Linked DNA regions of Homo sapiens: all the other regions are linked to region 3. Evidence: fine-mapped expression QTL. A gene starts in region 3. Each other region holds a variant in brackets. All regions are shown on one strand. Distances are from middle to middle. Region 1 overlaps MICAL2 (microtubule associated monooxygenase, calponin and LIM domain containing 2). Region 2 overlaps LINC02547 (long intergenic non-protein coding RNA 2547). Region 3 holds the start of MICAL2 (microtubule associated monooxygenase, calponin and LIM domain containing 2). Region 4 overlaps MICAL2 (microtubule associated monooxygenase, calponin and LIM domain containing 2). Region 5 overlaps MICAL2 (microtubule associated monooxygenase, calponin and LIM domain containing 2).

Evidence for each region. PIP is the estimated chance that this variant, and not a neighbour inherited with it, causes the effect.
Region 1: its variant is fine-mapped to the expression of MICAL2 in memory regulatory T cells (Schmiedel 2018, PIP 0.95). The same link has a PIP of 0.9 or more in T cells.
Region 2: its variant is fine-mapped to the expression of MICAL2 in cerebellar hemisphere (GTEx, PIP above 0.99). The same link has a PIP of 0.9 or more in cerebellum.
Region 4: its variant is fine-mapped to the expression of MICAL2 in whole blood (INTERVAL, PIP 0.98).
Region 5: its variant is fine-mapped to the expression of MICAL2 in whole blood (TOPMed, PIP above 0.99).

What each region holds. Positions count from the first base shown.
Region 1 is chr11:12,195,892-12,199,891 of GRCh38, reverse strand. The region is part of intron 3 of MICAL2 (microtubule associated monooxygenase, calponin and LIM domain containing 2); the gene reads right to left. Among named protein-coding and RNA genes, the nearest start is that of MIR6124, 34 kb to the right of the region's middle. The variant C/A (reference allele first, on the strand shown) is at 2,222.
Region 2 is chr11:12,047,196-12,053,739 of GRCh38, reverse strand. All of the region lies in intron 1 of LINC02547 (long intergenic non-protein coding RNA 2547), which reads right to left. Among named protein-coding and RNA genes, the nearest start is that of LINC02547, 20 kb to the right of the region's middle. The variant G/C (reference allele first, on the strand shown) is at 3,074.
Region 3 is chr11:12,106,897-12,113,440 of GRCh38, reverse strand. It overlaps MICAL2 (microtubule associated monooxygenase, calponin and LIM domain containing 2), which reads right to left and starts at 2,851. Exons shown (of 28, transcript NM_001282663.2): 1 at 2,715-2,851. RefSeq lists an enhancer at 2,242-2,945 and a silencer at 2,488-3,157.
Region 4 is chr11:12,259,440-12,263,439 of GRCh38, reverse strand. MICAL2 (microtubule associated monooxygenase, calponin and LIM domain containing 2) reads right to left here. Exons shown (of 28, transcript NM_001282663.2): 26 at 3,543-3,645; 27 at 903-960. The coding sequence ends at 920. Among named protein-coding and RNA genes, the nearest start is that of MIR6124, 98 kb to the right of the region's middle. The variant T/C (reference allele first, on the strand shown) is at 2,079.
Region 5 is chr11:12,135,441-12,141,984 of GRCh38, reverse strand. It overlaps MICAL2 (microtubule associated monooxygenase, calponin and LIM domain containing 2), which reads right to left. Exons shown (of 28, transcript NM_001282663.2): 2 at 3,525-3,595. Among named protein-coding and RNA genes, the nearest start is that of MIR6124, 25 kb to the left of the region's middle. RefSeq lists enhancers at 1,986-2,527, 2,528-3,071, 4,802-5,302. The variant A/G (reference allele first, on the strand shown) is at 3,538.

The sequences.
Region 1 (4,000 bases), 88 kb before region 3:
AATTATTACCCAGTGGGGAGCAGGGCAGAACCAACACCTGCAGGAAATCCATTGTATAGATAAGCTCGGCGGTGTTCAGGCCTCCACGTTAGCACAGAGGAGAGACAAACGCCTCATGGAAAAATCAGCTCTTTATCAAGGGTCAGGATGGGGGGATGGTGACCAACTAGCCCACAGTCAGGACACAAGGACTGGGCGGCCCCAGCTCACGTGTGACTTCTGCTCCTCCCCAGGGGAACCTGCAAACACAACCCACTTCTTGACATGGTGCATCTTCCAGCCGCCCCTCTCACCAGCCTACAAGTGGGCAAGTGTGCTGGGGCAGTCAGGAATGCATAAGAGATTCAGTCCCCAGAGGGAGATGCCGAGGGGACCAAGTGCTAAGCCAGGGGTTAGCAGTCTGCAGGTTTCATTTCCACTTCCGAATCCTGCCCTTGTGTTCCTTGAGAGCTGTGTGTGCAGACACTGCAGCGAGGTCGAGTGCAGAAGCTAGCACTTGACCAGGGTGTGGCGTTCTCCAGCTGGCTTACCCACCCTGCACCTCACCTAGAAAGGACAGTTGTGAGACCTAACTGCACGGTGCCTGGCACATTCTATTTGCCAGGCACTGTCCTATTTGCTTTGTGTGTTTCATCCTTGCAACTACCCTATGAAAGTGTTATGATCATCCCCACTTTATAAGTGAGGTAACTAAGGCACTGAAAAGTTAAGCAACTTGCTCCAGGCACTCTTATTAACTCTCTTTTTGAGTAAAGAGGGTAAGAAATGTCTTTAAAGTCACATAACAAATAAGCTGTCAGATCTGGATTTTAACCCAGGTACTATTGGTCTAAAGTCTATGCTCTTACCGGCTTGACTGACAGTGAAGCCCGACCTCAGTGGTGAGGTCAGGATGAAGTGAGAGGACTTGGCTCCTTCCCTGCATTGAGCACACTGTGGCCTCCTGAAAGGAGCTGGGGTTCAGGCTGGGTTCACAGGGGCTCTGCAAGGAACGAGCAAGCCAGGTCCAGCCTGAGCTTCATGTGCTTCCGCAGGGTGGGAAATCATAGGCTGGACAGAGCTTGAGCCTGTGCAAGTCACACTGGCAGGTGCCACCACAGTGGGAGTTTGGGCTTGGATAGTGCAAGCCTCCTTTGGTGAGGGTGGCCCTGGCAGCAAGCTGGGCATGGGGGAGGTCATGCATGGTGCTGTCTTCCTGGTAGCCGCAGTCCTCCCAGCACACTGACCTGCAGGCCAGCTCCCCAGGGCAGTGCACTGGTGCCAGGGACGTGCCACCATACTTCCTGGTGTGGCTCTGCAGCCTCCCTGGCTCTCAGTACCAGCCACTTATCTGAATCCAGGCAGGAAGCCCCTGGCTGTTACTGGTTTACCGTGAATAAGAACAGCTTGGTTCAGAATCGCAGGATGGAGAGTTTTCAAATTCAAGGTGCCACCCACCTGCCAGAATGTGTGTGTTGGGGGAGGGCTTGCAATAGGGACCTGGCTGCACAGCCTCACCCCTGCAGGGCAGTGCTGGGGTTTACTCATGAGAGATGGGGTTAACACTTACTGCCTGCTTATAATGTACAAGAACTGTGCTAAGCATGTTTTAAGAAATGCATCTCACTTGATTCTTACAGTAACCCTGAATTAGGCATATTCATCATCATTTGGCACATAGGAAACTGGAGCTCAGGAAGGTTAAATGACATAGCCGTGGTAACAGAACCAGGGTGAAAACCTAACCTCTGATTCCAGGGTACATGCTCAAAATCACCTGAGGTTCTAGCTGTGGAGGAATCTCTGAGAGGGGGTTGGCCAGTAGGGGCTCCCCAGGGGAACTTCAAGTGCTGCTCTGGGAAAGGAGTTACATCTCATCTGACTTGACATGGCCCTGACATCTCCAGACTCTCTTCTGTATCCAGTTATTCCTGAGTAACAATTACACACCACTTATCAATCTTAGAAATTTACAGAAATAAAATGGAAAAAGGTATCCTATGCTTTGTACGTTCCCTAAAAAAACCAACTAATTCCTCTGAGAAACATTCCGTTTCTCTCTGTTCTTCCCTTCCATCCTGAGCCAGTGCTCTCCTCCTCCATGACCAACTGTAACCAGTAGCTGCAGGGTCTGGATTTTCAGGGACAGTTTTATTCGCAGACATTCTGCCTTTTGGCCTCAGAAGTTCGTTCACACTGCTGCCTAGTTTAGAAGTTCTAAGCACAATCCTCAGGGCTTGTA[C/A]CTCTCTGGGTAGCGGTTGGGTCTCATGGCATCTCCCCATTTAACACATAGGTTCCCCGAAGTCAGGGTGTGAGGGCCACCCCTGTACCCCTGCCAGCAGCAGAGTCGAACACCTCACTTGAGATCTGAAAGTATGGAGTGAACAGGTCAACACAGTCCCATCTTTGTTGTTGCCTGTGCATCTCTGTTGGGAAGACCAAGAATAATAATAGTATTAATAATAGCAATAATGAAAACAAAGCTACCGCTTATTGCCTGCTTATAATGTACATGAAGTGTGCTAAGCATACTATAAGAAATGCATCCTGCATCGTTCTTACAATCACCCTGAATTAGGCATGTTCATAGCCATTTGGCAGATAGGAAAACTGGAGCTCAGGAAGGTTAAATGACTTGGCCATGGTAATAGAACCAGGGGAAGAACCTAGCCTCTGAGCCCATACTCAAAATCCCAATCCTATATTAATCCTTCCAGGTTTCCATAAGTGTTATGTGGCAGAGCATCTAAGATATGTAAAGGACTGGTGAGATGGCTCTGGGGATTACAGGCTCATGTTCCCAAACCTCAGGAAATTGGCTGGGAACTAGAGAAGAAGAAAAACAGATACAATGAATGCTGGATTGTTTGGTATTACCTCTGACTACTTTAGGAATTTAGAGAAGAAACAGATTAGTGACTTCAGTCAAGAAAGGATCCCTCCAGGAGATAGACCATGAATGGAGAATTGAGGCTGAAGATTTGCAGAAAGAAAACAAATGGCATGCTGAGAAAGAGGGAGGTGGTTTGCAGGGCAGTGGCCAGTGAAGTGAGGGTCAGGGGTTGGTGGGGAAGGTGAAACCAGGAGAGTAGAGAAAGAAAGAGAGAAAGAGAAAGAAAGAGCCAGATCGTGGAGGGACTTGGATGGCAGACTGAAGAGTTTGGACTTTATTCCTCCCCTTTGGATTTTATGAGCTTAGAATAGGATGGAGGTGCTACTTTAGGACAATTGGTTCCAGAGCAATAACAAAGATGGTAAGAAGAGAGAAAAGAAACTAGAGGTAGAGAGGCAGTCAGGGCAGCCTTTGAAACAGTTGACCTACTTTCTTGACTCTCTCCTGCCCTGCAGTTGCTCAGGCACCCTTGCTGCTCCTCCTCATCTTCCTGTCCTCTATACCTGGAAGTGCCTGGGGCTCAGCCTTTATACCCTTCCCTTATTGACCCTGACACCATCTACTTCCATGACTTTAATTACCATCTACATGTTGATGGTGCTCAACCCTGAATATCCCACGGAATCCAGCCAACTGTGCACTGACATTTCTATCTGCTTCAATACGCATTACTCACATAACAGATCTACAACTGAACTCTTATTCCCTCCCTGCAAAAACCTGCTTCTCCCCCATCAACATGGTCTTGGTAAGTGCTACCTACTTTTCTACTTGCTTAGACCAAAAATCTGGAATCAGTCTTGGTTCTTCTCCTCTTACCTCACAACCAATCCACCAATAAATCTTGTTTACTATCTTCAGAACAGATATAGAATCCAATCAATTTTCACCGGCTCACACGCTGCCTCCTTATCCAAGTCATGGCCATCTCTCCTTTGAACTGATATCAGGGCTCCTATCTGGTCTCCCAGCTTCCACCCTTGTCACTTTGCAGTCTGTCCCCATACAGCAACCAGAGCAGTCCTCCTCAAGTCAGATCATGTCACTCACTCGTAGCTCACATCGTTTCATGTCTGCCTGTGGCACTCAGAAGTCAGAATCACAGGATGTGGCTAGGCCTTAGGACCC
Region 2 (6,544 bases), 60 kb after region 3:
CCTCCAGGTGAGGCAATCATGACAGATTCAGTCTTGGAGGTCTTGGAATCAGGCCTTAAAGGGTATCAAGCAGTTGGAGTGCAGATGGGACAGAGGCGCACAGGTGTGCAGAGTTTGTGCACACCCCCAAGTGCCACTGTGAATTTAGGCCAAAGGGTGCTCTCCCCAGCTACCTGCCTGGAGGCCTAGTCAATCTCCCGTCCAGTGTGCTCATGTAAATTAGCATGTCTACCATGTTGATGATAACCCTTAGATGTAGGTGCCCTTGAGCAGTGCTCAACCTGACTTCCTGAACATGGGCCACAAGGCACCATCCTTTCAAGGTCTATGAGCTACACCTGAGTGGCAAACCCCACCTGCTGGTGGGCTTCAGCTCCTCAAGCAAGACCTTCCAGCCCTGCTCAGCAGAAGCCCGGAGATGCAGCAGAGACTTCAGTGACTTCAACAGGCAGGGGCTGAGAAGGCAGGATCCACCCCAGACCACAGCATCTCCAGAAGTAGCTCCCTGGGCTCAGACCTGTCAATTAAAGGCATTGAAGATAAAAGAGGGAGGTTTCAGTAAGCAGCTGGGCAAGATGAAAGCCCAAGTGCTGTTTTATGGCCTCCTAATGGGAAGATTCGGATGCACCTTATTATGCCCAATCAAGTAATTATAATTACAGAAACCCGGGAGACTCAGAGGCGGCCTCCTGGCTTTGGCTTTCACTCCCAACCGGCCTTGACAAATCACGATTTCTCATCTCCTCGCCCACAGGAATCTAGGAACATGCTAATTGCCCCAGAGTTTGGCAGCAGGTCCCACCCACTCCTGGGCTAGACACCACGCACCTGCCCCTCCCCAGCCCAGGAGCCAGCGAGATCTAGCAGTGTGTGTCCAGCCAGAGCCTGGAAGCCAATGGGCAGAGCAGCCCCCGCCCTTCAGCCATGGGTAAACAGAGGGACACTAGGAGTGGGGGCGGCCACGGCTAGCGGGATGGCCAACTTGCAAGGGCCAGCTCGACTGCTGCTGCCTGCTGCACACACTGCATTTTGTTGATTTTATTGTTGTGCTCCCCCTATAAAAATATGAGCTCCATGAGGAAGGGTTGGTATTTGTTTCCCATTGCTGCTATAACGAGTCCCCGCAAACCAAACTTAGTGGCTTAAAACACAGAAATGTATTATCTTACAGTTCTGCAGGTCAGAAACCTGACTGTGCTCAAATCAAGGGCAGTGCTGTGTTCCTTTCTGGAGCCTACAGAGGGGACTCCAGTTCCTTGCTTTCTCCAGCTTCTACAGGCCGCTTGCTTTCCTTGGGTCGTGGCCTCTTCCTCCATCTTGGAAGAAGCCAGGAATCACATCACTTAGAACCCCGTGTCCATCCTCGCACCTCCTTCTCTGACTCTCCTGCCTCCCTCTTCTAAGAACCCTTGTGATTACGTTAGGCCCACCTGGATAATCCAAGGCACCCTCCCTCTCTCCCAGTCAGCTGATGAGCACCTTAATTCCACCTGCAACCTTAAGTCTCTCTTGCCACGTAACATCACATAGTCAGGATTGCAGGGATTAGGGCATGGACGTCTTTGGGGGCAGGGAGGATCATTATACCTACCACAGGGCTAGTGTCTCTTGTTCCCTGCTATAGCCCCAGTGACTGGAACAGTGCCTGGTTCATAGTGGGCCCTCAAGAAAGACGTGTTGAATAAATTCATGAATAAATACATGAATAACCATTAGGAATACTATTTAAGGCTGGGTACAGTGACTCACTCTTATAATCTCAGACCTTCGGGAAACCACGGTGGGAGGACTGTTTGAACCCAGGAGTTCGAGGCCAGCCTAGGCAACATAATGAGACTCCCAGTCTCTACAAAAAATAAAAAATAAAAAATTAGCCGGGTGTGGTGGGGTGCACCTCTAGTCCCAGCTATCTGGGAGGCTGAGGTAGAAGGATCGCTTGAGCCTGGGAGGTAGAGGCTGTAGTGAGCTATGATCACACCATTGCACGGGGTGAGACCCTGTCACACACAAAAAGAGTAAATTTAATATTATAGCAAACAGCTATCACGCTTACTAAGTGCCAGGCACTGTTCAAAGTGCTTTACAAATATTTACTCATTTAATCCCCAACAGTTCTATGACGTACATTTTGTTATTATCTGCATTCTACAGATGAGGAAATTAAGGCACCAAGGAGGAGCTCGCCCAAGGCGCCACAGCTAGTGAGTGGTGAAGCTGGGATTTGCTCTCACGTTTACCGAGCCTACCTATTATGCATCCGGCCCTGGCTGAGCATGTTACATTTCTGATCTCATTTCATCCTCAGAGAGGCCATAAGGGATGTGGGTGGAATAGGAACAGAATTAACAGGCACAGAATTAAGTCACTGGAGCAGCTGAGGAACTCTGAGAGATTCTGTGGCTCAGCTGGGGCAATGAATTGTGTATTGCTTTTTGAGCCTCCTTTGCTAATTAGACCAGGGCCCACCCCCGCAAGCAGACCACAGGTGTCTGGGTTCCCACCATGATGTGGGGCTCCTGCCTCAGCCCTTGCTCCCAGCTTCTGCCCCTAACCGTTGCAACTGGTGCCCAGGCCGCTGCAGATGGCAGCAGGCCATGACCTTCACCTGAAGCTGGACCTGGCAGGTCTGCCTCCAGGAAACCTCTTCCCCAAGGGACAGGAACTGGCTTCAAACCTCACCCAGAGCTCAAGTTGCTTTGCCCTTTTCACTGATGACAACCGTGGGGACCCCCATAGCTGGGCCCTATTCATATTTTGCACATCCTGGAGCTGTTTGCTCTCTACATGCTGGCCTCGGCCACCAGCCCTGTGACAAGCTGCCCCTCTGTGATAAGCTCCCCACCCAGAAGCATGCCCCTAAGACCACAAGCACCAAAACCTGCAGGAAGCCCCTAAACATGGCCCCCAGTTCCCTCCAGCTCTGCAGGGAGAGTGCTGCTCAGGCAGGGAGGGGGAACTGCGCTCTCTCACTTGCATCTTAACCTTTGCAATCAAAGCCAAGAGGAGGGAAACTCTTGTGCCTGCCAGCACAGTGGGGCATCGCATTTTCTGTTCCTGCCAGCACATTTTTCTA[G/C]GTCAATGTCAGATCAGGGAAATCCAATACTGCATGTCCCAACGTTTTATTTGAAAACAGAGAAGTTGCTTTCCAAAATAAATAGCGTTTACAAGTAAAGCCTGGAGAAGCCTCTGTCAGAAATGGACTCTGGGCCCAGGCAGGATAGACGTTTCCTAGTGGCTTTGATTGATGTAAACCCAATGTCAGCCCCAGCTCCAGGCCTAAAAGGAGAGGCTGGGCTGAGGAAGAACACGTGTATATACACATACGTATTGATGTGTGCCCGTACATATGCATTTGCATGTATCCTTAAGGGTCTCTGGGTATGATTAGCATGAAGAGTAAGTTGGGGGGCTTATATGTGTGTCCTTATATGTGTTTATGTGTACAGGCATGTGAATGTGACTGTGTGTGCCTGTGTATGTGTGTGATGTGACACCCAGCCCTGTTTCTCAGACACCCAGTCCTCTTTCTAGACACCCCCTTCTTCTCCTCCTTGTACCTGTTCTTTTTCTTTTTTCTTTTTTTTTTTTTTTGACACAGAGTCTCGCACTGTCACCCAGGCTGGAGTGCAGTGACGCGATCTTGGCTCACTGCAACCTCCGCCTCCCAGGTTCAAGTGATTCTCCTCCCTCAGCCTCCCAAGTAGCTGGGATTACAGGCCCAGCTAATTTTTTGTATTTTTAGTACAGACAGGGTTTCACTGTGTTGGCCAGGCTGGTCTTGAACTCCTGACATCGTGATCTGCCCGCCTTGGCCTCTCAAAGTGCTGGGATTATAGGCGCGAGCCACCGCACCCGGCCCCTGTTCTTTTTCTTAACTGATTAAGGGGCTGGGGCTCAGATCTTGACACACTGTGACAGGCATTTCCTCTGCTCTGTTTCTTCTTGGTGCCTACCCACTGCTCCTTCCCAATTTGATGTTGACTTGTTGTGTAGACCAATGGAGTCCAGTTTTTGGTTACTGTGTTAGGACCCAGCAATTTGAGCCCAGGCTATGTTAACAGCGCTCTGTAAATGGTACCATGCACTGCCCCGGAAGGCCGCTGGTGTCACTTCTCGCTGACGTCACCCTGACTGCAGGATCTCCCTCACAGACCTCCGACTTCTGCTGTCAGTGCAATCCTCCCCAGGCCTTGCCAGTTTCCATGCTCAAGGCCCCGCCTGCCTGATGACCACCTGTCTCATTAAACTTAAGCAACTCAGCCTGGCTTCCAAGATCTGAGTATCTTCTTAGCAAATTCTCTTCTCAGGAAGTGTGTCCCCTTCCTGAGCACCTCGGCCAAGCTGCCCCATACTGTGTTAGCTCTGGCCCCTCCCTTACCCACCTCTGAGCATTTCTTTGCTCACGCTGTTCCTCTGCCCTCACACCATTCCCTGCTGCCACTTCTCTCTCATTGGCTCTGCCGGTCCAAACTCTACGCTGTTTCAAGACCAGTTCTAATCTCACCCACTTTCTCTACGAGGACTTAGAAGAGCCTCCCACCCCACACTACTTTCCCATCAGACTCTGGCTCACGGGATGACACACTGCCCTGTGTGTTGCCTAAGAATTGTTTTCAGGTTGCTTCATGGGCCTTATCTTGCCTTCTGACCTAGATTGCAATCTCCTTCTAGGCAAGAATCAAGCCCGGTGCAAGAATCAAGCCCGGTGCTGCCTTTGAACGAGATGTGGAACCCGACACAGGTCTGGACACAGTATAGCCAGGGGATGAGGGCTTGTGGGTGAGTGCACGCAGAAAGGCACACTCGGCTGGGGCGGTAAGGCCGCAAAACTGTGTCCTAGGCACTGCGTTTTGTGATTTATCTGTCTTAGCTCATCTAATAATAACTGTGGCGGCAGGGTGATATTATCCCCAGTTTAGAGATGAGAAAACAGAGATTGAAAGAGATTAAGTGACTTCTCTGAAGCCACAAAAGTAGTCCAGTTGTCTCTTGCTAACTGTGGGGGTTTGGTTGCCTGATCCCCTTGAATACCAAAGTCTGCGGATGCTCAAGTCCCGTGTCAGCCCTGCAGAGCCCTTGCATAGAGGACACTTTGCTTGTAACCAGCAAAATCAGGGGTTAATCCTAGGTGGGTCTGACTGCCTTTCTCATAACCTTGTAACAACCATATCCATGGGAGGCAGCATGCTAACAGTGAACTCTCTGAAATTCTAAAGCACACCCTACCCACAAGAGATCAGAGCAAGTTCTAGGGTGGCACTGTCCAACAGAACTTTCAATGATGGAAATGTTTATTTCTGTGCTGACATGAGAGCCACTGGCCACATGTGGCCATCGAGTACTTGAAATGTGGCTAATGAAGTAAAGAACTGGATTTTAAATTTTATTTTATCTTAATTTGTTTATTTATTTGAGACAGGGTCTTGCTCTGTCACCCAGGCTGGAGTGCAGTGGCGTGATCTTGGCTCATCGTAGCCTCAACTTCCTGGGCTCAGGTGATTCTCCCACCTCAGCCTCCCAAGTAGCTAGGACTATAGGTATGCACCACCATGCCCGGCTAAGTATTTTGGTAGAGACAGGTTTCAACAAGTTGCCCAGCCTGGTCTCAGACTCCTGGGGTCAAGAGATCTGCCCACCTCAGCCTCCCAAAGTGCTGGGATTATAGGTATGAGCTACCACCCCCCAGCCTGCTTATTTAATCTTAATTAAAACGTAAGTACTGTGGTCACATGTAGCTAGTGGCTTCCATATTGGATAGTGCTTCCCAACCACGTCCATGTCAAGTCAACATAGAAAATACTAATTACGCAATAATGAGACTGTTTGCTGCCAGAGGCAACTGGCTCAAGGGGTCCTGCCTTCCTGACCCCACCTAGCCTCCCTCAACAAATCTGTAGGCCACTTTAGGCACACTAGCTCTTCACAATGGTCAAGCTTCCTGCCAGCTCCCAGCCTCTGGGCCTGGAACACCAAAGTCATTGTGATCGTAAGAAATGCCAGCATAGGAGATGTGCAGGACCTTGTCAGTTCTTGCATGGTGTCCTTTCCTCCATTCCACACACAGTGCCTGGCCCTGGGCAGGGGCTGGGGTAAAAAGAACTCAGAGCCAGCCCTCACTAAGCACTCCCACGAGGCCATCTGATTCATATGCCCCAAACTGTTCTTTTTTGGCAGCACTTTGGCGCCCCCTCCTGGGCATCCTGCAGAGTTCAGGTGCGCATAAATTTGCCAGGAGGGGACAAGGACTTGGCCCTGGGACTGACCGCAGGGCTGTCAAAGACTTCCAGCCCCCCTGGCCAGCCAAGTGAGGGAATGCCTGCCCTTTTTCCAGGCCCAACTGGGGCAGCTCTTTTTCCTGCAGGGAAAAGGCACTTTACTGGCAGCCCTGGGGAAGAGGCAGGGGAGGCAGCTGAGTCTGGAAACGGGAGCATTCCAGAGCCCAGGCCTCTAGGCCCCTGTGCACTCTTCACACTGTGCCAACCCTGGATTTTCAGAGAGAAACCAGAGAGGATGGCTTGGCAGAGGCCCTTTTGGAGGTAACTGG
Region 3 (6,544 bases):
CACTCATACATGCTGTGTGATGCAGGCAAGTTGTAACCTTTTTTGTTGTTGTTGTTACTAAAGACAGCAGTCTTGCTACGTTGCCCAAGGTGGCCTTGAACTCCTGGCCTCACATGATCCTCCTACCTCAGCCTCCAAAGTGCTGGTTTTACAGGCATGAGCCACCACACCCGGCCAAGTTGTAACCTTTCTGGGTCTCAGCTTCCTCACCTGTAAAATGCAGTTAACCCCACTTCTTTAGAGGCAGAATGAAACAATAGAATGATGTAAAGAATGAAACATCTCAGCATGATGAACAGTATTCTCTTCTCTGACTCTTTAAAGAATAGAGACTGTTAGCCCTCAGAGGACATCTAGGATCAGCAATGTTTAACCAAGTTATTCTTTTACCCTTACCACGTCCCGTCCTGCCAGAGCCAAGGCTTCCACCAAGAAGACAAGACCTCTATACTTCAGCAGTGGGAAGCAAAGGGGGCAGGCCCATGGCTGGGAGGCAAACCCAGGTGTGGGTGGAGAGAACAGAAACATACCCCAATTATAGGCAGAGAAGGAATCTGGGATCATATGGCTGCTCCTTGCAGCCTGGGAATGGGCCTCCAATGGCCACAGCCACAACCAGGCATAGTTCTTAAAAGCTGATTTATACTAAAGTATAATGGATTGGTATCAGTTTTCATGATTTTCATGACATCATGAAAATAAGTCATGAAAATCATGACTTATCATGATTTTCTTTTGAAAGAGGGGATGAGCAGAAAGCCAGAGCCCTAGGCCTAAAGGAAGAAGGGGCTGGAGATAAAAGTGATGTCATGTTTTTATAGAGGTATGTTCAAACTGGATTTCAATTACCCCACAACCATAACACTACACCCCAACACCTGCCCCCCCACCCCCAAAAGCCCCACGAAACTAGAATCAGTCCTAAGGTAGAGGTTATTTCAGCTAACACAGTCCTCCTAGACTATACCAGAAGCCAGCTTCTCAGAGGTGAGGCCAGGTCAATGGTAGAAGCAGGCTTCCTTCCAAAATAGCACCCAATCCCTCCCCATAGCAATCTGGCCAACACTATCCACTACTCTTGACTAGGGGGAGGATAAGGGGTTTGCAGGTTGAACAACTTGGCTAACCTGGGTCACTTCAACTGTTTTGCCAAAGAAGCATCCCCTGAAATCCTGGTGGAGAGCATCTTTTCAGAGGCTGGAAGGCTCTAGTCAGCACGCTGTGGGGCCATGGTCCTGCACACAGCACACCACTTCCCACAGCCATGAAACAAGAGCACTGGACTCACACTGACAGGGCCAGGACCTGGCTCAGACACTTGTTGTGTGACCTTGGGCACCTACCATACCTGAGCCTCTTTCCCCATCTCTAAAATGGGGAGGGCAAAACTCTCAGCGTTTTTGGAATAACCATGAAATTGGCTGCAAAAGTGCCACAAGACAGGACCTGTTGCCCAGTAGGCACTTAATAAGTCCGTCTTCTCTCTGCATGAAGAAAGTGAGTTCTTACGGTATTAGAGTCTCCAGGGCATTGCACAGGACTACCCTGGAGACCGGAGGCCCACTTGTTGGGTCGACTGCCACTGGGGAGGGGGAGCAGGACAGAGTAAGTGCAGGTGTCAGGGAACCTGGCACAAACACTGGAGGGCCAATTCGCCTCTGGCTTTTCTCCCGTGGGACCAGCCCACAAGGGGCCTGGCTGGTGACTTCATCCTTCACCAAAATCATTGTAGACTGTAGTTAACAGGCGACAATCACAGCAAGAGAGCCGGCACACTGCTGTAGGCCTGGCGGGGCCCTACAGGCTTCCAAATAAAAGCTCTTTCCGCTTTAAGAACCCAGGCCTCAGAATAAACAATGTGGAAGGAGGCACACTACTCTGGTTTCCACATCCCCTCATCCCCATCCAGTAAAGGCCGTTCCCAGCTCTGCCAGTGAGGCTGGCGGTGAATACAATTTACCCCACCTGCCCCGTCTGGCCCGGCAGCGGCTTAGACGCTGTGGGCAAGATCCCACCTCTCCCCGGGGCCAGCCAGGCACCTACAGGGTGGGTGCCGCGGACACCCTGCGGGGGTGCTCCTGGGCCTGGAGCGAGAGCGGGCTACTGGGGATGCGGGAGACGCGATGCAGAGCGGACAGTGCCGCGGCCCCTCGGACCACTGCCACGACCCCATCCCGACTGGGCTCCAGCCCGCGGCCAGCCAGGCCACTGACATTTGGCCCAACTTAACTTCCTGTTACTAAAGAGGGAGGGGACAGGGGAGGGGGAAAAGGGCGCCCAGTGAAGAGCTGGAACGGGGCGTGCAAGGCTCGGAGCCCCAATCCTGGGAAGTTTGGGGATGGTCTTCTGCCAGGTGACAGGCAGCACTGCAGGCGCGTCACTCCCACCCCGTTTTGGCGCTTGCGATTTTCTAGGCTTGGAACTGCAGGGTTTGGGTGTTGCGGAGCGGAGTAAGAGGTAGTTCGGCGTGCCGGTGGGAGGCTTTTATTGCGTTCTAATTGGTTCAGAGGCCGGCCAGGGCCGCCCCGGGCTTCGTCGCAGCGCCACCTGCTCACTGTGCGCCCCGCCGGGTGGGTTTGAGGCGGGGGATGCTGCGGCCGCACCTGACCCTCCCGGGCGTTGGACACGGCGCAGAGTCCAGCCGAGGCTGGCACGGTCCCCACCCGCGCCCGCCCGCCCTCCCCACCCTGAGGCCAGCGCCGCCCCCGCCTTACCGAAAGTCGCGCGGGCTGCCCGGCCCCGGGTCAGGCCTGCCTCGGCCCTGGCCGCGGGCGCAGCGATCGGGCCCCGCGGGCCACTGACAGAGCTGGGAGCGAGCGAGGCGGCCCGGCGCAGGCTTAGCCAGCCGAGCGCCTGCGGTTCTGCGCCGCGCGGTGGACCGGGCTGGGGAACGCCCCCGACAGCGGCGCGGCCAATGACAGGACAGCACGGAGCCCGCCCCGCCCCCGTGGGGCCGGCTGTCACCGCCGCTGCCGCCGGCGCACGTGGGCTGTAGCCCGGCCCAGAACGCAGGGAGTGGCCGGGCGCTCCCACCCTGACCCGCACAGGGCGGAGACCAGGGGAGGGCTGCTGGGAGTGGGGCGTGGTGGCGCTGCGAGATGAAACCCCCGGTGTTGGTAAGCGGGTATCAAGGGAGCGGCGAGGGCCTGGGCCTCACGCTTCTTGGTCTAGGCGGCTGGAAAGCAAGACACGGCATCCCCTTTTGGACATGGGGGAGCAGCATGGCACTTCTAGTACCGACTGTGTACGTCCTGTGGACCTCCCTCTTTGCTCGGCTCCTTGACCACCCTGAGCTTCCGCAAACCTCCTTGCTAGCTAATAGGATCTTCCCCTCACCTGGCCTTGCTTGGCTAAAGCTAGTGGGAAGGGGGCGGTGGTGCAGACTACCTGTGTTACCTTGGTCAGATCACCTAAACACCCTCTACCTTTGGCTGTCATATCCCTATCTTAATCTCTGCTCTGCCCACCTTCCCGGGTTACCCTTACCCCCCACAGCTCCAGAGAGCAACATTCACAGACAACACAGTGTGAATGGAGTGGGGCCTAGTGAGCAATCAGAAGCACTCTGTAGACTATAACTACTGTAAAACACCTTGTGTTTAAACGGCTCTTGTAGCAGTTATCATGAAATGGGGATCTCCATGGGCAGGAACCATGTCTGACTCACCTCTGGAACCCAGGGCCCATCACAGGGCTTGGCCCGGTGTAAGCATCAATAAGTGTTCTTGGAACTGAGCTACCTAGGCAGAGGAAAACAGGCAGGCTTGAGCAGTGAGAAACAGTATTGTGGCTCCAGGCTGCTGGAATTTCCCCAGCACAAGACCACCTCCAGGAGACACCATGTTCCCTTGCCAGACAAGTGCAAACAGAACAGTTTGCCTCCCCAAACCTGCAGATTATTATTATTTTTTCTCTACTCTACTTCTTGCCATGTGATCCTACTCTCAGCCCTTTGGTGTTTACCAGGTATTGTCCTACCTGGCAGCTCTCTTAGCTCTCTCTTCAGAATTCAATCAACTTCCTGTAGATGAACTTTCCAGCAAAAGCTGTTCCTACCCAGTTTGCAAGGCCCAGTCAGCTTGTACTCTCAGAGGGCCAGCACTCCACTCTGATGGAAATCTGCCTGTGATGCCAGCCTGGGGAGTGCCCTTCACACGTGATCTCATCTAAGCCTGGCTTGACAGGTATGTATTGTATCATCATCCCATTTCACAGATGTGGAAACTGAGACCAGTGAGGTAAAGCAACTGGTCAACATCACATGGTTAGTAAGTATCAGAGTCCGGATTTGAGCCAGATCTGGTTCCAGAATCTACATGCCTAAACACTATGTGCTGGGGCCTCTACAGCACTGCCCATGCCTCTAGGGTACTTGACAGGTCAAGTCTAACCCTGAAAGAGCTGCTCTAGGCCTGACCCACTCCCAGTCCATCCAAACAGTCTGTCAAGCTCAGGCCAGGGCACTGTAAGGGAGAGGAGACTCCACTGGCCTGGCCCTACCTTATTTAGAAGAGTGATACAGGAAACCCAAGGCAGTGAGGAGCTTCAGGAAGCAGTGTTACATCTGTCCCCACCTTAACTACACTGGACATAAAGCCTCTTGCTATTGGCCTGGACCTGAGACACCCATGTGGTGGATAGAGATGGAGACAGAGTCATTCATTCATTTAACAAACCCTACTCCGAACCAAATGTGGTTCCTGCACTCATGTAACTTATAATGCAACAGATGAATAATCAGAAGTACACAATGCTGTCCAGACATGGTGGCTCAGGCCTGTAATCCCAGCACTTGGGAGGCTGAGGTGGGCAGATCACCTGAGGTCAGGAGTTCAAGACCAGCCTGGCCAATATGGTGAAACCCCGTTTCTACTAAAAAACACAAAAAATCATCTGGGCATCATGGCACATGCCTATAATCCCAGCTACTCAGGGGGCTGAGGCAGGAGAATTGCTCGTACAGCGAGACTCCATCTCAAAAAAAAAAAAAAAAGGAAGAAGAGGAAGAAGAAGAAGAAGACCACAGTGCTTTGGGAGCTGTATTCTTTATTACTCTTTTTTTTTTTTTTACAGTTTTATCACCTTACCAATAGCACAACATTCTCCCTTCAGATTAAAACAAGCTTAATGCTATTTCAGGAGCACTGTGGGCCAACCAAGTTTAACAAAGATAGCATTGCTCAGCACAGAAGTTCAAGCAACTTAAAAATTAGAACTTACCAATGCATTCCCAGAACCTCTGCCTCCTCTCCCCTACCCTACTCCCAATCTTTTTAACTCAGGGGGCTCAGATAAGAAAGACTCTTGCTAGGTGGGTGCATCTGAGGGCTGAGAGGTGAGCTTTTCCTTGGACGCAGGGCAACCTGGGAACTGAGAAGGGTTAACTGCATGGAGGGAGATAAACCTGGGGACTTCTTGAGCCAGTGGCCAGAGCCACTCACCACCTCACACAAGCCACCCTTGCTGACCATCTTCCTGGAGAGAGAAGAGGAATGGGTTAAGGATGTCACAACTCACCTTCCTCTGGACTAAGCAGTCACCATGGGATGTCCTGCTGGGCTGTGACTATGTCTAGGAGTTATACAGCTCAGCTCTTCAAATGAAAGATCTAAAGTTAGGGCAAACTTTAGAGGAATATTTATCGAATCCCTTACCTAGCAGATGAAAGAAAAGAAGAGGCCAGGCATGGTGGCTCATGCCTGTAATCCCAGCACTTTGGAAAGCTGAGGTGGGTGGATCACTTGAGGTCAGGAGTTCAAGACCAGCATGGCCAACATGGTGAAACTCCGTCTCTACCAAAAATACAAAAATTAGCTGGGTGTGGTGGCACACGCCTGTAATCCCAGTTACTTGGGAGGCTGAGGCCAGAGAATTCTTGAACCCAGGAGGTGGAGGTTACAGTGAACCGAGATCACACCACTGCACTCCAACCTGGGCGACAGAGCAAGACTCTGTCTCAAAAATAGAAAAAAGAAAGAGAGAGAGAGAAAAAAGAAGAAGGAAGGGAGGGAGGGAGGGAGAGAAGGAGGGAAGGAGGGAGGGTAGAAAGAATAAGGAAGAAAGGAAGATAAAGAAAAGAAAAAGAGGCCGGGTACAGTGGCTCATGCCTATAATCCCAACAGTTTGGGAGGCCGAAGCAGGTGGATCACCTGAGGCTAGGAGTTTGAGACCAGCCTGGCCAACATGGTGAAACCCCATCTCTACTAAAAATACAAAAATTAGCTGGGCATTGTGGTGTGCATCTGTAATCCCAGCTACTCAGGAGGCTGAGGCAGGAGAATCACTTGAATCCAGGAGGTGGAAGTTGCAGTGAGCCGAGATCGCACCACTGCACTCCAGCCTGTGCGACAAGAGCAAAACTCCATCTCAACAACAACAACAAAAAAAAAAAAAAAAAAAGAAAGAAAAGAAAAGGAAAGAAATGGAGGCCCAGAGATAGAAGGATGCTTCTGATGGTCACAGAGTGAGTGAATAAGTGTGTTCCAGGCATGCAATGTCCCTTTCTCACTCTTAGCATGACAGGCAAACTAACTCAATATCTTTA
Region 4 (4,000 bases), 150 kb before region 3:
ACATGCAGGACAGACGCCCACCGCAGCCTGAGACCGCGAGTGTTGCCTAGGACAGCTCCACGGTGCTTGGTGTGTTGTTTCTCGTTAAGAGTGTGTTGGTGATTATCCTGCTGCCCCAGGTACAAGAGTCAGCAGAAATGTGTGCTTTAAGCAGAGTCACAGGGGCCTGGGGCTGAACTGAGTCATTTCTCAAAGATATCCCTGCCTGGGATGATGATGGCTCTAATTGAAGCTCTGGCATCATCTGGGGCTTTATGAGCCAAGGGAGATAAGAAGAGCCACAGCAAAACCCTTGGGTCTACAGTGCAGGCTGCAACCAAGGCAGCATTTGCTAGAATATTTGTGATTATGTGTTCAACCTACAGAGCATGTGTCAAGCTTGGGATGAGGCCTGAGAGTAATTAAGTTTTTTAAATCCCTCCAAATAATCACCTATGGTTTTGATAAATGACATTAACAATCTTTACATTAGAGCCAATTTAAGAAGGCGCTGGTATGTATGAGCTTTTTGAGGCTGCTCAAAAAGTGTTCTTTTCAAAGGTGACAGAGGCCCCCTCATGGTATTGTTTCATGATCAAGGTCGACCCTCCCAAGAAAGTAGGTAGCTTCGCAGACGCAACTGGAGAAGCATGCACGCAGGCAGACCCAAGGGAGAGAGGAGAGGCGGGGCATGCACTTGGGGTAGACCAGGCTGCCAGCTCCATGGGAAATGAACACAGGCATGGGTCTCAAGCTGAACACCCCCCGCCATGCTGTTAGCCAACCATGCCACCAAATGAGTCCATCAGTATGCAAGACACTCACAGTTAGTGCAACCAGTACTGCTGGCGGAGAGGACGGGGTGCGGAAAGCGGGTTGGGGGTTAGTACCACTCTTTGAAAATTGGCAAGAAAACCAGTCACCTTAGAGCAGAAGTGTGTCAGCCAAGAAGTGGGTGTAGCACTGGAAGGCTGAAATGAACTGATGGCCATGGCGTAAGATTGGAAAGAGAGAGAAAGATAGAAAAGAGAGCTTAGTGTGGGGAAAAAAGGAAATGATTAACATCACGAGAAGGCACCGGAGTTGAAAATAAGGCCACGATTGAAAGAGGGAAACTTCCTCTGAAAGAGTCGCTGTTTGCTTAGGAGAGATGAACCTTTCTGGTTGTGACCAGCTACTTGTTTACGAGAGTGGATGCACACAGTTTGCATCTTGCTCCCTGATATCCTCTCTGCCCCCATTTTACTCTAGCGTCTCCCATTCATTCTTGAATATGTTGCGGAGGCCTAGAGGCATTCATCCTCGGGGGTCCACCCCTGGGTGTCGGTGCTGCCCACCAGAAAGGTTCAACATCTCAGAGCGTACAAACATCTCAGATTTCTGACAGGCACGCCCTGTCTCGCCACAGTAATTCAAACCAGTCTCCTTATGGCTGTACACGACAGTCAGAGATTCCGACTCGGGCTTCATGGAACACTCCACAAAGCATCTCAGCCTATCCTGAGCTGAAGATAATCACAATAACATGGCCGTTCACATCATGACCTCAAAAATTTACTTTCTATACTCAAACAAAAGGAATCAAGGGTTCCTCCCACCATGCTGAACATTAAAATCCCAGCAAAAATTGGAGAAAACACAATGCAAGTCATCGGACTGAGAACAGTGCCAACAAGGACAGAGGCGCCAGTTCCCACAGAGTTGGCCACGGCCATGCCTCTGTTTTTCCCAAGGATTTCAGGGAAGTGTTTGTAGAAATGCACCTCCTTCTTCCCGCCCCATAGAAACTGTCATCTCAAAGCTCTCAAAGGTTCTGACTCCTCACCCACACCCAGGCACACCTCTTAGTTAATCCAGAGGCATCTCTAGTGATAACTCCACAGAGCTATCTTGGGCCCAGCAACTCCAGATACACTGCGCACCGTAGATGGCCTTTCTCTGGCGGCCCCTTGATTGTTCAGCCAGACCCTGCAGCTGTGTATGTCTAGGCAGCGTGGAGTAGGGAGAGCTGAGGACTCTTCTAGATACCCAGAGTAAGAACACAGGTGGACCTGCATGCTCATTTTTACCCTTACTCATGCATATGTCCTTTGGATCAG[T/C]CCATAAATAGCTTCCACTCCCAGCCTTCCCTGCCAGTCAAGATATGGTAGAGCTTCCCCTGGAGGTCAGACCCATTCCTTTCCCAGGGCAGTGTGAAATTGGTTTCTGTTTTGACCACATATGTGTGGCAGCGGAGCAGCTAAGCAGTCAGGATGTCCACAGGCAATGCTCACTGGGCAGGCCACGCTTCCCAGCAATAGCCTGATGTGCTAACAAACCCCCTCAGTCCCAAAGGACACCACATAAGTGGACAGAGTCTTCCACTCCACTTGGCCTGACCAATATGGACCCTGCACAGCCTTGGCTCAGCCTGCAGCCCGGGCTGGGGGATCCGCTGGGAGCCACAGGGGCTAAAATGCCATCAGTTGAAAGAGCTCATCTTTGGCACTGCATCAGCTCCATGGTCAAATGCCAATGGGCTTTCCCTGCAGTGCCCATTAGTGGGAAGGGAAAATGCATGTTTGTAGAATCTGTTGAAACCCCACGGTTCTTTGTCATTTGGCTGTGAGTTGGTATGGGGGGGAAAGCCTTTAAGCTACTGTTTAACATCAAAACAAGGGAGCAAAACAGTCCTCCTCCCAGGGGGACAGATAACAGCCAACCACACACTGCTCCGTGCTTCTGTAAGTTGAATTCTATTCTGCCCTTCTACTCTCTTCTTCTAAAATAATTATGCTTTCGTGTTGTAAAAAGTATCCTGCTGCTGACAAGTGGCATCTGGGTACCTAAGTCAAAAGGCACTGGTCAGGAGATGGCACACTCATTTTCATGCGTGTAAAATCTTAAATCATCCACTTTGCAGGCAGTGGCTTTGATAACTCACTGCAGTGTTCAAGGGGTTTATAAAACTGGTTATAAGCTTCAAACCCATGTTTAGAAAAATTGACACTCATAGAAAAAAATGCTTTCTCTGGGCTAATTAAAATTAAAAAAATTGAAATGTAAACCCAGAAGTATGGCTCACAAAGCTATAGAAAAGATCCTTCATATCATCCCTGGCCCTAGCACCGTGAGTAGATGTTCACCCTGATAAGGCCAGGCGGAGGTGGCCCATGTGAAATTCTTTGGCTTTGAGCTAATTGCTTAGAGAATGCTAGGCTTCCTGGCCAGAGCCTGAGCAAACTGCAAACGCACTGCCATCTGAAGCCTCCCTGGAAATGTGAAGGCACTTTGGGGCAGCCAGCCATGTCAGCGGAGCTTGACTGGGAAGCACCTGAGCACCCAGTTGCAGATGCTCTCGAGGGAGCCCTCAGATTCCCTGTACATGGCTGCCAGGACCTCAGAGAACGCCCAGAGGAGTGGCAGCCCCAGGCTCAGGAGCTCGTACATGTAGCAGTAGTTGTAAGCATTGTCCCTGATATGGAGGCCAGCAGCTTGCAGGAGTCCCTGCATCCAGTTACACAGGTCCCTCGGCAGCCTGAGGGGCCAGCCCAGCACCTTCCTAAAGAAGGAGGTGGAGATACCTGGGGGGCTGCCTTCCAGGGTGCCAATGGCGGCCACTGCGCAAGAACTTTCGGTGGGAGTGTCTCTCCGAGGGGCTTCCTGCTCTTGCCATGTTGCCTCCTCCTGAGAAAGAGATGGAAATGAGGGCATTTGTCTGTAAGTCTTCCAGAGGACTACTTCAACAAAGCCAACAGCCAATACAAACTGAACTCGCCAGACCCTGCAACCAGCCCCCACAATAATCTCAGCCCCCCGACTCATGCTGAAGCCGGTGCTGAACACGGGCACTTTTCTAGGGGCCAACTGACCATAGGAGTCACGAGCCTTCAAAAATATGCATGCCTTTTGATCGGCAATCTCACTCCTAATGATATACATCAAGTAAATAATTTGAAATATGGATAACAACATGCATACTAGCATACACTGTAAAAACATTTGTAAGATAAAAAATTCCAACGACGTAAAGATCCAGTAA
Region 5 (6,544 bases), 29 kb before region 3:
AAACGGGAGAAGTGGATTAAAGGATCTGTCGTTCTTTTCAGCTTTAATACTTTACAATTGTAAATGTTAGAGACAAATCCACCTTCCCTAGCCTTTCCCCTTTTCATATTGGTTGTCCATCTGAGGTATCTCTCATCTCTCACTGAGCAACCTTCTACCAATGCTATTCCCTTTATTTCTCCAAAGTGTCTGGTCACCCCTGATCACAAGGGTTGGCCAACTTGGGGCCATATTCTTAAGAACATATTGACTACCCTCTGATCAAAAATTCAGTACAATCCAGGTACCCTGGGGCATCAAGGACTTGAAAATCCCAACAACCTTTAATCCCATTTTCCTCTGATACCAACCAACTTTCACTCCTTAGATCTCTAAGAGTCTCACAAGGTTAGAGTTTTCTCCCATGCTGCTTGGCAGAAGAGTAGGGCAACAACAGGAAGTTCTTATCTGCACTCTGGCATAACTCAGGGTGGCGCAGGGGAGAGATGGCAAAGCTACAAAGATCAGGATGAAAGTGCTTACAGAAGCAAGCTCTGACCACATGAGGAGGAGGTGACCTGGAGGAGAAGACAGTGCTAATCACAAGGACAAACTGAGAGAGACACTGAGGACCAGGACCACAGAAGTCAAGGAGACTTCTTTAAGATACCACCAAACCTCCACCCCTCCCTGAATTCCTGAATAAGAAATCTGAAGGCCCCTGAGGTTCTGTGACTCGCCCAAGGCCACATAGCTAAGCTGTGGACAGTCAACACTAGAACATGGCTCTCTTGGTCTCAGCCCACTCTTATTTCTACTCTATTCTGTTGACCTCAAGAGTCTAACAAGGCCAGCTGGATCCCTTGCAGACTCGAAGAAAGATGACCCAAGTATCACTTAGGGAAAGAGCAGACCCAGCGGATATTTTGATAACTGCCTCCCGGAGCCCATGAATTCTTTCCCATCTTGACATGGTTTTCTTGTTGTTTCTCCAGCCCTTGCCACAACATATGGAAAAGTTCAGAGGTCAGTGAGAAGGAAGAGGTAGGCTCCCCTAACTGTACAGAACCCTGCATATCTAAGATAATACACACCTGTCCTTCTTCCTCAGTCTAGAGAAGGTTGGTGGGGGAAGGGTAGAAGGAGGAGATGAGTGAACTGCCTGGAAGGCTGACCTGTTTAGGCCACAGGTATTATTCATGGGCAATTAGATGGGTCACTGAAGGTCTGTGACAACAAACAGTAGGATCTGCTTCTCCCAAGGACCTCTCATAGATCAATGTCTAACGTAGCATCTCAATGTCAGGAGGAGGAAGCTCCGAGTAAAAGTCAAGGAATTAATTATTCAGTGTGCATGACCTAGTTCCCAGAGGTATGGCTGGGTGAGAAGAGAGCTCACCAGTTCCTTATCATGGCAAGAAACTCAAATATTCCACAGGGTAGTGTTCTCTTTGCTGCCAAAGAGGGTCCACTTATGGTTGAGAGTGGCCAAAAAAAAAAAAAAAAAGAGCCAAAGTTCACTCATTCCACAAGTGTTTATTGAGCTCCTCTTAGGTCTCAGGCCCTCCAGAGATTTACTATGGTTGGAGTTTAGCAGAGGAGAGACATGGAATTTATAAACAGTAGGACTGGGCCATGTCCCAGCTCAGCCCTTAGACAGCTGCATTGCCTTGGGCAGGCTACCGCCTGCCTAAGGCAAATTTCTCATCTGTAAAATGGGAGAAGTCCACCTGCTTGATCATGAAGATGAAATGACCTTTATAAAACATAAAGTGCAAAGAAATATGAAGTGTAAATAATAATGATACAACATGATACACTTCCCCTGCCCTAGAGAAGTATATAATTTGGGAATGCTTTGGAAAATAATCCAAGGTACCTATTTGGCAAGCATCACATTCTCTGTAATTTGGGGAAATTTTATGTTTCACCCTGCCAATGGAGATGAAACTGGCAGTCAGTCCCAGTCCTCAAGTCCAGGAAGTTGCAAGAAAAGGTAGAATAAACACAGAAGAGTAGCCAGGACCCACCTGGCCCTGGGTCAAGCCTGGATTGAATGGATGAGCCAGGAGGGACCCAAGATTCCAAAGGGAAGAGAGAAGAACAGCACGTGTGTTCAACAGAAACAGAACAAAACAAAAATTCATTTGAGGGCAATAGGATTGAGCCAGCCAGAATTGCTCACACTCCCCTCCCTACACATTTCAGACAACATTGGAATTCACTGTTCATTGCCTGACCCTCCTCTGTGGACAAACTCTGTATTCTGTTTCTCCAGAGAGGGGACAGTTTCTCAGGCTGTGGCAGACTGGCCAATCAGCTCTTTGCCTGGGTCTTTCCCCAGATACTAAGAATGAGAATTCCTGGAGCAGCTTTCCCTGAGGTCCAGTCAACCCCTTGTCATCCTGCCATTCAGGACTCCCGTGGACTCCTCACCCCACGTGATCCCTCAGCGCCCACCAGGCCAGCTGCCAAATGCCCTGACATGCACGCCGGCTGCCCCTCCGCCGGAGCCTCCGCCCATGCCCCAGCATCTTGGATTGGGCCCTGATGCTCTCCCCTCACCCTCACCTTCATCCTCCCTCCTCCCACAACTAAACTGAGCCTCTTCAACGCCCTGCCAAGGCTCACATGTCCAGGAAAGCTCCCGGAGAGAAGGGAGGGTTTTATTCATCCCTATGTTCCCTCTGACTCATGGCTTTCTGTAAGTTCTTCACCCTCCTGTAAACACAGATATATGGTCCCAAAATGTTCTCTGATTGCTGAATACAGGAGCAGGGCAGAGGAGGAGGGAGGAGGGGTGCCAAAACGCCAGACAGGAAGTCCAGGGCCTGCGTTTCCATTCTCCATTGGACACCAGTGAGCCCTGTCACCTTGAGAAAGAATCTTCAGGCCAGGCCTCAGTCTCCCTGTTTGGCAATGAGGGGTTTACTCTAAACAACCTTTCTAATTATAAGGTTACAGAAACCAGGCTAGCCTGGGACACAGAAAACGTGAGTCCTGGGCACTTATTAGCCTACCACCACCTGTGGCAGGCTATCTGACTCCTCAGACCCCAGCCTCCATGTCTATAAAATAAACAAGGATAATGTGACCACCCCACCCAGGGCACAAAGGTTCCCATAGGACACTGTTTGTGATGAAGCTTTGTGGACCATAAAAGCCCTGATCAAACCTCAGGGATGAGACTCCTTGAGTCCACAAACAGCTGTTGGTCACCTGTGATGTGCCTTGTACTGTGCCTGCCGGGAATTGCTGCCTGGCTCAGACAGGAAGGCGGGAGTCTGGTTCCTTGCCCTTGAGGCTCCCACAGCCGGTAGGTGGGACAAGCAGGTGAACAAACCCTAACTCAGTGGTGTATCTGAGGCAAGAACACAGCGCTAGGGGAGTGCAGAGGAGGTGGTGCTGACTCAGAGGGAACAGCGCGCCCTGGGCACAGCAAGCTGCCCCAGGATGGTGGGAACATCCCACACTTTCCTAAGCCTAGGACCAGCCCCCAGGAGCTACTCCACGGTAAACAAGATCCACCACTGTGACTTACTCACTGGATTCTCAGGC[A/G]TCACAGTGGTTAAAGTCTTCTCTTTCTGGGATGAGACACACACGGGTTGCCATGTTCCTTTAAAAACAAGAGCCCAACAATTAATGTCAGTGACATCATCGTAGCTTATGCCTCCTTTCTAGTCTCCTCCAAGAGGTCACGCATGCTTGTGCACTCTGCCTTGTGGGACACTTCACCCAGCAAGAGGAAATGGACAGAGAATCTCTCCCTGGCCTCCAACAAGTTTTGCACGTGAAGAAAGGAATAGCAAGATGGCTAAACAAATTCTATTGTTGGCTGCAGTCAGGGCACCCTAAGGGCTTATCAGATCTCTACACAAAGACTTTGCTGAGGAGTAGGAGGGATCCGGAAAACAATGCTTTATTCGCTGCTTTAGTAAAAACAGAAAGTGTCAGAATTTTTAAGTGTGAGACACAATGAAAGTAAATCAAGCAGGTGTAAAACTGGATAACAAGTCCCCAGTGTGAAACGGGTCCCATTTTCTAACACTGAGTAAACTAGGGAGTTATGAAAGTGCACCAGCTGATCATGGCTGAGTTTCCTAAACTAATTTTTCTCTTGGCTTCCAGTGACGACCCACATTATTTCATGACATCCTATTGCTTCTGCAGAAAATGCCTCTACACCTGTTTGGAAAACGAAGCCCAGAGTTACAAAATATTTCTAATGATTTACTTCCACATTAAAAAATAAATCAAAATATTTAAGAGGTAACCTCAAAGGGACAAAAACTAACACAGGTGTGAAATTTGACATCTATAAGAGGCAATATTCATACTCCAGGGAGGTATACGCACACTTTGTTCAACAGAGTGGTGCCCCCCACACACACACTCACACACACACACACTCTCTCTCTCTAGCACACAAAGAGCACACATTGTTAGAGTGCTGGGAGATGGGACTCACTGTTCAGAATTCTCAGCCCGTTAATGGGAGACAGCCTATGAAGTGCTGTGTACTGTCATGGGTGGAGACTAGACCTGCTTGATCTCAGTGGCTCCTCACAGACAGCAAACAGAGGCTTACAGAACAGATGGCACTTGCCAAGCCCCTACAGCAAGGCAGGATTGGAGCCCAGGACTGGCTGCCCCTGTGCTCATGGTCTTTCCCACCAAGCTGAGGGAAAGGTGTACTGGACATCAACTCTGATTTAGTCCTGGTGGGCCCACACACCGGGCGAGCCTGGCGAGCTCCAAGGGCGGCCACCTGGGCAGAAGCGGCAGCCCTGCCCGCCCGTCATCATCATTACCAAGCCCACACCCCTCGGGGCTTGTGCCAGCTGACAAACAGGCTGGCCTGCCTGGGCCACATTCTATCAGCCTGTGCTGCAGGCTCGGTGCTGCTGCTTCCAGCCAGAAGTCAAAGCGGCTAGAGGCCTTGACTTGTCTGCCCCCTGCTTCTCAAGGGAAGCTTCTGGGATCTGTGGGTGGGGAGCTGGACATCCTGGTACAGAATTCCATCATTGGTCCAACCAGAGTTTCAGAAGCCAGGGACCCCGCCATGCTCTCTAGATCTCAGGAACAGAAGTCCCTACCCACCCTAGGGCATTACGGAGACCAGCAGCAGGGACACGGGGCTCTTTAAGGTTCAGCTTAGGCTGTCTTCATGGTGGGTTGGAGGCAGGTATGACTGGACCAGGCTACAAGGGCTGACCACTGGTCAGATGCTCACAGAGGCCTGGGCACACTGTGTCCAGCCACTCAAAGGACCAACTCGTACCCTTTGTCTGACCAACAAGCCAAATACACTTGAGCTCCCTGTAACACCAACAAATTAGAAGGTCCTAGAGCCCAATACCTTCTGGCCTTTGAGGGTCAGGGCCTCTGTTCCCTCATCCATAAAATGAGGAGCTTGATACAATTGGTGATTTCCTCACCTAGGACCCCATTCAGCTGCCCCCCTCCAGGTACCCTGACTTTTAGAGACACCGACAAAACTACTTAGTTGTTATAAGAGGGAGGGATTAACCTGTGTACAGGTATTGCCTTGGGTAGTTAACACTGCTACCTCAGCTAATCCTCCCAGCAACCCTGTAAGACAGGTAGTACGGTATCATTACAGAGGGGGAAACTGAGGCATGGCACAGCGAAGTGCTTCACCCAAAGTCTCGATTAGCAGAGACCACAGCAGCTCTGGGACTCCCGATGGAGCTGGCCTGAGTCCACGCCCATGCTCACTCCCTGACACTATATTTTCCTTTGTAATCAACCAGAATGAAGAAATGCTGTCTCTCCTTGGACTTGCCATCAGGCCAGTGCCAAGCAAAGAAGCACGAGGTCTCTGGTCCCTCATGGGCCTGATTTGGGTGATACAGGGAAGGTTTCCTGTGAGATTGAGTGGGACATGACAGGCCCAAGTGACAGGAACTCCGGGAGCCTTCCTCTTGGATGTTTTCAGAGTCTAAGCTCTTCCCTGAGGGACCCCAGCACTTGGACAGGGCCTGGAGCCTCCAGGCCCTCAGTAAATATTTGTTGAATGAAGAAATGAATAAACTCAGAGTTTCAATGCACTAAAGACTTGTTCAAGAACCATCTGGTGTAGGTCGGTGTGAGATAGATCGAGACCAGCTCAAACCTCACAGCCGACCCCTCAGCAGCATGCAGCAGGTAGGGGTCTCCACATCCCAGCCCCTCCCCAGACTGTGGACAAAGACTCAGGTGCTGAGCCAAACCAGGGGAGCTGCAGACAGAGCAAGAGAAGTGTCTAAATGTGCAGGCTACCCAGTGAGGCAGTTAAGAACTTGGGCCCTATGATCAGTCAAACCAAGGGTCCTATCCCAGCTCTGTCACTTTAAATTAGTTGGGTGGCCCTAGGCAAATCACATCATCTCTGTGAGCCTCAATTTCTTTTTTTAAAATGTGGATGATGTTAGCACCCACTTCATAGGGCTTCTCTGAAGATTAAATGAGATAATCCTATAAAGGACTTAGCCCATTGCTTGCTCAGAGCAGGTGCTTGGAGGTGATGTCTGTTATTGTCTGCATCAGAGTGGGTGGGTAACGG